2 separate regions of the Homo sapiens genome follow, and region 1 is linked to region 2. The links come from fine-mapping of genetic effects on gene expression. A gene starts in region 2. The other region holds a variant in brackets. All regions are shown on one strand. Distances are from middle to middle.

What was found. PIP is the estimated chance that this variant, and not a neighbour inherited with it, causes the effect.
Region 1: its variant is the best candidate, but not a certain one, in a credible set for the expression of APBB1IP in lung (GTEx, PIP 0.53).

What each region holds. Positions count from the first base shown.
Region 1 is chr10:26,538,278-26,542,676 of GRCh38, forward strand. It overlaps APBB1IP (amyloid beta precursor protein binding family B member 1 interacting protein), which reads left to right. Exons shown (of 15, transcript NM_019043.4): 11 at 3,305-3,415. Among named protein-coding and RNA genes, the nearest start is that of LINC03028, 39 kb to the right of the region's middle. RefSeq lists an enhancer at 2,474-2,543. The variant C/T (reference allele first, on the strand shown) is at 1,692.
Region 2 is chr10:26,436,410-26,440,808 of GRCh38, forward strand. It overlaps APBB1IP (amyloid beta precursor protein binding family B member 1 interacting protein), which reads left to right and starts at 1,932. Exons shown (of 15, transcript NM_019043.4): 1 at 1,932-2,046; 2 at 2,243-2,444. RefSeq lists enhancers at 1,249-1,778, 1,496-1,625, 2,186-2,265.

The DNA of each region.
Region 1 (4,399 bases), 100 kb after region 2:
TTCCAGATTCATATGGCATAAAATATAAAATGTATTAAAAGAAATGAAGTAGAACTGAATCAATAGAAAGGTACCATGTTGCAGGCCAGGTGCGGTGGCTCATGCCTGTAATCCCAGCACTTTGGGAGGCCGAGGCGGGCGAATCACGAGGTCAGGAGTTTGAGACCAGCCTGTCCAACATGGTGAAACCCCATCTCTACTAAAAATGCAAAAATTAGCCAGGCGTGGTGGCGGGCGCCTGTAATCCCAGCTACTCGGGAGGCTGAGGCAGAAGAATTGCTTGAACCCAGGAGGCGGAGGTTGCAGTGAGCCAAGATCATGCCACTGCACTCCAGCCTGGGGCGACAAAGTGAGATTCCATCTCAAAAAAAAAAAAAAAAGTAGAAGATAAAGAAAAGAAAGGTACCATGTTGCTAAAAGAAAAGTTATTAATTCTTCCCAGTTTTCTATAAATTTAATATAATTTTAATAAAAATATCAGTAGGATTTTATTTACTTGAAATTCACAGACTGATTTCATGGAAAAAAGACACTGTTCCAAAATAGACCTTCCCAAAATTGTGAAGAACATCAAGGTAGATCTCCTGCTGTGCCAAAACATTAGATAAAAACAGCACAGCTAGAGACAAACAGGTCGACAGACAACCGTCTAATATCAGAGAAGTTAAAGTTGGAATTTATATCACAGCAGTGGGGAAAGAATGTGGTATTCAACAAATAGAACTGAAATAACTGTATATCCATTTAGAAATATAATTTCCTACCTCATTCCATGTACCAAACTAAATTCTTGATTGATTAAAATATCTTTAGAGAAAAATAGTATAAAATCCTAGAAGAAAACAGAGGCTGGCTGGGTGCGGTGGCTCATGCCTCTAATTCCAGAACTCTGGGAGGACCAGGTGGGAGGATAGCTTGAGCCCAAGAGTTCAAGACCAGCCTGAGAAACATAGGGAGACCCTGTCTGTACAAAAGGAATAAAAAAATTAGTGGGGATGGTGGCACATGCCTGTAGTCCCAGCTACTTGGGAGGCTGATCCGGGAGGATCATTTGAGCCCGGGAGGTCAAGACTTCAGTGAGCCATGTTCGTGCCACTGCACTCCAGCTGAAGTGACAATATGAGATCCTGAAAAAAAAAAAAAGAAGGAAAGAAAGAGAGAGAGTGAAGGAAGGAAGAAAGGAAGAAAGGAAGAAAGGGAGGAAGGGAGGGAAGGAAGGAAGGAAGAAAGGGAGAAAAAAAAGAAAATATAGGTTAATGTTTTTATAATTTTGAGCTGGAGAAAGGTTTCCTAAGCAAGAATAAAAACTCAAAATTATAACGGAGAAAAATGGCCAGATTTGACCTGATAAAGTTATTTTTAATACCTTATGGCCAAAGATAACAAACAAGAAGTGAAAGACTGACTACAGTGAGAGAGTACATTTGCAACATGTATAAACAAGTATGAATATCCATAAAATATAAAGACTTCAAGAAATCAATAAGAAAAAGATAAACATACAGAAAAATGGCAAAGCTTTTAAAGGGAAAATTTACAGAAAAAGAAGTACCGGTAACCACCGCATAACTAAAAGTTGCTCCGTCTCATTACTGATCAGGGAAATGAAAATTAAGCATGAGATTGATAAAATAAACAATATAGATAATATCCAAATTTTGGTGGAAGTGGGTAAGAAAAAGAGACACTCA[C/T]GCCTGGGAGCTTGGAATAGAAACTCATACGGCCAAACTGGGGGACAATTTAGCAAAATCTATGTACATGTAACAGGGAGTAAAAATCCTTTCAAATGGCAACTCCATGCTTGACGAATCTATCTCACAAAAATATAAGCTCACATGCACAGTATTTTTTGTAATAGCTAAATATTGAAATAACTTCTAATCATCTGTAGTAGAATAGTTAAATAAATCGTTACACCTGTACCGTAGAATTCTCTGCAGCCATAAAATGAATGTCATATATTAATTCATGTCTTGATGTAGAAAGACTCCTAGATGCAATGTTAAGAAAAAGAAGGCGAGGGGCGGTGGCTCACTCCTCTAATCCCAACAGTTTGGAAGGCCAAGGAAGGCGGATCGCTTGAGCTCAGGAATTCAAGACCAGCCTGGGCAACGTCATGGGATAGAACAGAATAGAATACTACCAAACTATTAACTATGGTACCTTTGGAGAAAAGAACAAAATAAGAAAAAGGGGTGGTGGAGGAAGATGTGCATTTTATTATTTATATATATATATATTTTAAATGTGACTAATATGCATTCGTTTGTAACTTAAAAATGTAAACTTTGAACATCCAGAAGAAAATATCTTGTAAGAAAAGAATACAAGCATATGTAAAGAAATAATTGTGCACTAAGGTGTAAATAGTTCTGCCATCTATTCTTTATTCACTAACTAGTAAAGAAATATAGAAAGCGAAACAAAAAACTAATGGAACACATTTGTAATTGAAGTGTAACCAAATATGTAGATTACAGGCTGCAGTCTTCACAGTGCCTGTTATCCGTGGAGGAGAGGTCTCTGTTTCCATGGCAACACTGCCTGCAGTAAAGAGAACTTGTGAAAGAAATCCTTTTTCTCAGGAGGAAGTGCATGAAGTGTGTGCTGATTTACTGAGCATAAGTTTATCTCTCATTTTTCGTCCTGAGGGGGACTTTTTTTTTTTTTTAATGCTCAATCGCAAAATCCATCACGGACTTAGAATGGCAAAAGTCAAAATGAAATTTCTGGCTAAGCGGTCACCTTGTCTCGACTGCATCAATAATGACATCTCAAGGACAGTCCATCCTGACTCTGGGAGTCCCCAGACAGGCATTAGAACAGCAGTATAATCTTTCACTCCGTTTCTGGGTCAGTGGCACCGATTTTCATGGCTGCACTCTTTTTAAAAAATTAATTTTATTTTTTGATTGACAAATAATAATTGTACATATGCATAACGTACATAGTGATGTTTTGATACATATAATGTATGGTGATCAGATCAAGGTAATTAGCACATCCATCATCTCAAACATTTATCATTTCTTTGTGTTGGGAACATTCAATATCTTTCATATTGGGAAAGATTTATGTATAGATCTTACTAAATTGTCCCCCAACTTGGCCATATCAGTTTCCATTCCAACCTTTCAGACTTGCCTTTGAGAAAACCTATACATGGCAGATGTTTATATAAATTACCTAAAAGTCAATATTTTCTTTACTAAAATATAATCCTTAGTTGTGCTATGAAGGACAACTCTGGAAAATTGTTAACTGTCATCTCAGTTGAAGTTTTATTTTTTTCCCTGTCTTTCAGACATCTCGAGATCTGGCGTGTTTTATACAGTTTGAAAATGTCAACATTTACTATGGGACTCAGCATAAAATGAAATATAAAGCGCCCACTGACTATTGCTTTGTTTTAAAGGTATGTTATAAGAAGTCATTCATTTAGATTTATAAGCAATTTGAGTTAATTTTTTTTCAAGGAAGAAAATGTTAAATTATAGTTAGCCATATGTGTAACAATAAGAAATTGTTTAACCAAAATAGGAATGAGGGAAACATTTCTATCAATTTGGGACATTTTCCCCAAAGCCTCCTATCTGAACCTAAAACTTTAAGGTAACTCTGTCTGGGGATTTCTTCACTTCTGAAAATGAAAGTTCCACATTTTAAACAAATTAATTTATAATGTTATCGATAAGACTAAAAAAAGTTTTCAGTTCTTATTGGGCTCATTCCACCATAAGAAGATTTTAGAAATTAGAAACTTGCAAGATTTCCTAGACAACTTATAGAAAATAGCCAAAAAAAAGTTGTTTTAATTACTGGGTCATGAAACTTCAGGTGTATATTGTCAAAAGGCAATAGGTATTATCAAATGTTAGATATGGTTTACATTTTTTTGAGACCGAGTCTCACTCTGTCACCCAGGGTGGAGTGCAGTGGCTCAATCATAGCCCACTGCAGCCTCAGCCCCCCAGGCTCAAGCAATCCTCCTGCCTTAGCCTCTCAAGTATCTGGGACTAGAGGTGTGCACCACCACACCAGCTAATTTTTGTATTTTTAGTTAAGATAGGGCTTTACCATATTACCCAGGCTGGTCTCAAACTCCTGGGCTCAGGCAATCCACCTACCTTGGCATCCCAAAGTGCTGGGGTTGCAGGCATCAGCCACCACTCCTGGCCGATTTACATTTTTTAAAATTAGAATCTCAGATCAGTCTGATCAGGAGATGGGTTATTACAACCACACATGTGATGCGTTACGGGTCTTTCTGTATGCCTGCAGAACTCTGGATTAAGGACTATGGTAAGTTTTTGTCTGCGTTTCTTTTTAGTCAAATGCAATAACCAGGTGAATTCAATCATATTTAGTAATTTTGACTCCCTGAACAATTACAATCACT
Region 2 (4,399 bases):
AAGAAAGTCACTCTCATTGTTTGATTTTATATTTTATGTAGCACTTACAACTCTGCTCAGAACCTTCCACTGGCTTTCCATCTCACTCACATCAAATTCTCTTCCACAGCTCCCAAATAGCACACAATCTGGGCACCATTTCCTTTTGATCCCATCTCATGTCTGTCCCTCCCATCTCACTCTGCTCAGCCGTACTAATTTCCTTGGTGTTTTTCCAATATCTTAAGTGCTCTCCTAACTCAGGGTCTTTGAATGTGCTGTTCCTTTTGCCTGGAATATTCCCATCTAAAAACCCAGTGTGGATTAATCTCTCATGCCATTTAGATCTAGCTCAAGTGTCACTTATCAGACAGAAATACCAGTTTCAGGTGTTTCTGTCTATTGGGAGACTGCCTTTCCCTGGTGCTATATTAAAAAAAATTAGGATAAATAAATAATAAATAAATAAATGAAAAATACATTTTCTCTTCCTTATGATTTTATTAATAACAGTTTCTTTTCTCTGGCTTACTTTATTATAAAAATACAGTATTTAATATATATAAAATAATATGAGTTAATCGACTATGTTATCAGTAAGGCTGATAACAACTGCTTGATCATCACCTGATGGTCACCTGACATTCCTGGTAGGGGGTGGGAGGAGCCCTCTCCTGCCCTGCTCATGCCTGACTAGCTACCTACTGTAACAGAACAATGCCAGATTTCAGGAGTACCAAACTGCTGCACAATTGAAAATCCATGTATGTCTTTTGACTCCCCCAAAACTTAACCACGAATAGCCTACTGTTGACCAGAAGCCTTACTGATAATATTAAACAGTCAATTAACACATATTATGTTATATGTATTTAGATAAATACTGTATTTTTACAATAAAGAAAGCTAGAGAAAAGAAACTGTTATTAAGAAAATCATGAGGAGAAAATATATTTTCTATTTATTTATCGTTTATTTACCCTAATTAATACAGCAACCCCATCCCCATGCCCATCACTCTCTATCCCTCACCTTTTAACTTCCTTCAAAACTAGTTACATTCCTTGACATGTTAAATATTAATTTGTTTATTGTCTGCTTTCTACCAACTAGAATGCACCATGCATGAGAGCAGAAATTGTTTCCTCTAACTATTTTCATTGTTCTTAGAAGTGTTGGTGCTTACGAATAGTTTCTCATTAAATAAATGACAGAACTATTTGAAATTGCCTAATTAACACATGCACCTAATTTCTGTCTTTATGTCTTCACCACCTTCCCTGACATATAAGCCTTTGAAGACACAGCTGTAGAGGAGAAGGGGAGGGTTATTCAACCGCATTTACAAATCATAACTGATTTTAACTTCTGTATTTTCAGACCTCCCCAGCGACTTTCTCTCAGGAAACTCCACTCCCAACTGACAGGTGCTATTTCCAGCCAGTCCTATGCTGTTGCAAATAGTGAGTCCATGAATGCCCTCTGCCGTGTGCATTACTTATTTTCATCAGCAGATCTTCGTAACACACTCCTGGAAGTGGGATGACGGGGTCAAAAGGCGAATCCATACATAAGTTAAATAGATATTGCTCAATTCTCTTCCACGGGGTTCAGACCATTTTGGATTTCTACGAGCAATGAAGACAGTGCTATTCCTCTACACCCTGGCCGGCCAACTGAGCGTGGTTAAACGTGGGGAGGGAGGAGGGTGAGGTTACCAACCTGATGGTTGAGAAAGGGCCTCCGCCCAGCGCGCCCTTCCTCCACCCCCACCCGAGAGACAGCTGAACTCCGGCCGGGACGCGCGTGTTGCCAGTCCAGCCCTGCACCGCGTCCCCTGAGGGCGGGCTGCAGGCGGCCGGGAAGCCTTGCACAACCGGCCCAAAAGAGGAAGCCCAGAAAGTGCTGAAGTAAACACTTTGGGAGACCGTTGCAACATAAAGCGGCCTCTCAGTCTTTGGTGGAACCATCACTAGGCCCCAATCCCTTAGTCCCTCTTGCGTCGAGGCTGCAAAATGGTTCCATTCGCCAGGAGACGCTCCTGAGAGAAGGGCGCGCGCGGCACAGGTAGGGGGAGGCGCAACGTTTCCCAGAATTAAAATAAAATAAAATAAAATAAAATAAAAATCCCTTCAAGGTGGTTGTGTAGTAGGGGTGGGATGGGGGAGAGAAAATCAGGCGCAGACTCGATGAGTTGGAGAAAGCAGCCCCTAACTCGGAGTCCTTTACGCATATGTTTGTCTGTCCCACTGTCTCTAACCAGGGGCCTTCCTTGCACCTCGGAGCAAAGCAGCTCGGATAGCGCCACACGTCTGCGCGCTGCGTGGGAAGGGCAGGGCTGACAGCACTTCCTCCCCGGGGCAGCGACCTGGAGCCCGGGTGCGGCAGTCTGCACCGCGCGTCGCTTTCCCGGCCGGAGTCTCGCCGCCTTCCCGCGCCCCGCAGCGCCCCGCAGAGCAGTCGAGGTAAGTGGCGCTCCCAGTCCCGGGAGCCCTGGGAGCGCCAGCACGGGCCCCTCGGGGCTGTCAGGAACCCGTTTGTCAAGCCCGTCGGGTCCGACGCCGGGGGCAGCTCCAGGATCTGGCCTCGTGAACGCGTGCCCCCAGGCGTGGCCCTCGAGCGCAGCGGGTCCCCAGGGTCCCCTCCGCTGATCTCCACTCTGGACCCGGCTCGCGAGGGTGGGGGTGTGAGGGTTTGGGGTTCGGGTTTGCTTTTTCCCGAGCTATTGCAACAGATTTGACAGATTTCCTGCCCAGGAAATTGCTGCAAGGTCAAACGGGGAACTGCTATGAACCCTTGCACGTCCAGCAGGTCAGCAGGTCAGCAGGTCAGCAGGTCCGGGAGCCCCAGTCTCCCGGAACCTGGAGGGATTCTTGAGGGGCCAAGATTAGATGTGGATTAAATGCCAGCCGTGTGAGAATTTGAGTGTGGCTCGCAGTCTGATGCATCTTAGAGTGTTTCCTTCCTCTAAAACTTTTGGACAACTCTTTCCTCTTTTTAAAAATAACTTTTTCCCCCGAATATTCTCATTTTCATTTTAAAATACCATAAAGATAGATTTGGACACCAGGCACAAGTTTCATAATTTGGCTTGAAATGAATATCCAGAGGGCCTTTTACAGAATGGAGGAAACTAACTAGGGTGTCCTAATGTCTCCAAGAACCTCTGCGCAGGTGTTCCACCAAAGACCTAGCCCGGTGTACCTCTTACTTTCCTGCTAAGGTATTTCTTAGTTCATACCCCTGTGGAACGTGAAATGTGTTTCCTAGACACTCAGGGCATAGCGGTTCAAAAGAACTTTTAATGTGATCCTTGACGAGACGGAGTACTAGAGGAAAGTAACAAAAGAAAAGGGCCCGTGAGTTTATTATGCCCCCAGATGTTTTTTTCTGGTGGCATAACGTGGTTTAAACAAAGGTGCCGGTACTAGCTACTATTCATTTTAAAATCTGGGTCTCCAGAGAGAAATTTCAGAAAGGAAAACTTTGTCCTTTTTCATAAACCTAGAGCAGCGATTTTCCCTCTGGCCTCACTGGAATAATGGGTGGCACATGGGCCAGGACGATGATGCTGGCTGGCGAAATTAGCAAGGATCTGCTGAGAAATACTTTATAAAGTCTTCTAGTGGTATTTCCTGTCTGCTCAACGTGTGTTGTGAAAGGTCTAAGAAATTTAACTTCATCCTTAAACTATTAATAATGTGTGTCCTTAAACTATTAATCCTTAAACTATTAATAATTACTAATATTTGGGTTTTTTCTCAGCACTTGGGAGACCTGGGTTCTGGCTCTTATATCTCCCCCATCTAGATAAGGATGATATTGATTAACTTGCATAACTTCTCCCTGGACTTCAGATAACGTCAGTAAAGTGAGATGATTGGGCTACATTATGTCTGTTCTTAAAATAGCAATTGAGGAGTTGCTATAATTCTTTGAATTGGTCCCAACTGGAATACTGGCAACATTATATCAACATTAGAATTGCTGATCACAAATTTTTTAAAAATGGAGAAAATAATCATAACCATAACAGATTACATTCTGAAATATCAATATCTTTGAGGTCTTTTGTTTCTGAGAAGTTCCTGTAAAAGCGCAGTCAATATCTGGCCTATATGTAAAAAGGCAAATTTCCATCTTATTTGAAAACTGAGATAAGAAACAGCCCAAACTTGAACAGGTCAATATTATATTTTGAAATCTTTAAATTGCTATTTCTCAAGAAATATAACTTTGTAATATGAATTACTTTATGGCATTACTTTAAATCTTAAACACAATACTAGGTTTTATAGTATTTATTACATTTTTTGTATTTTTATATCCTAAGAATGTTCACCAGTTATCCACTATTGATTTGCCTTTTTTCACTCATCAATCAAAGTTTTAAATAGTTCCATATTATTATTAGAATGAG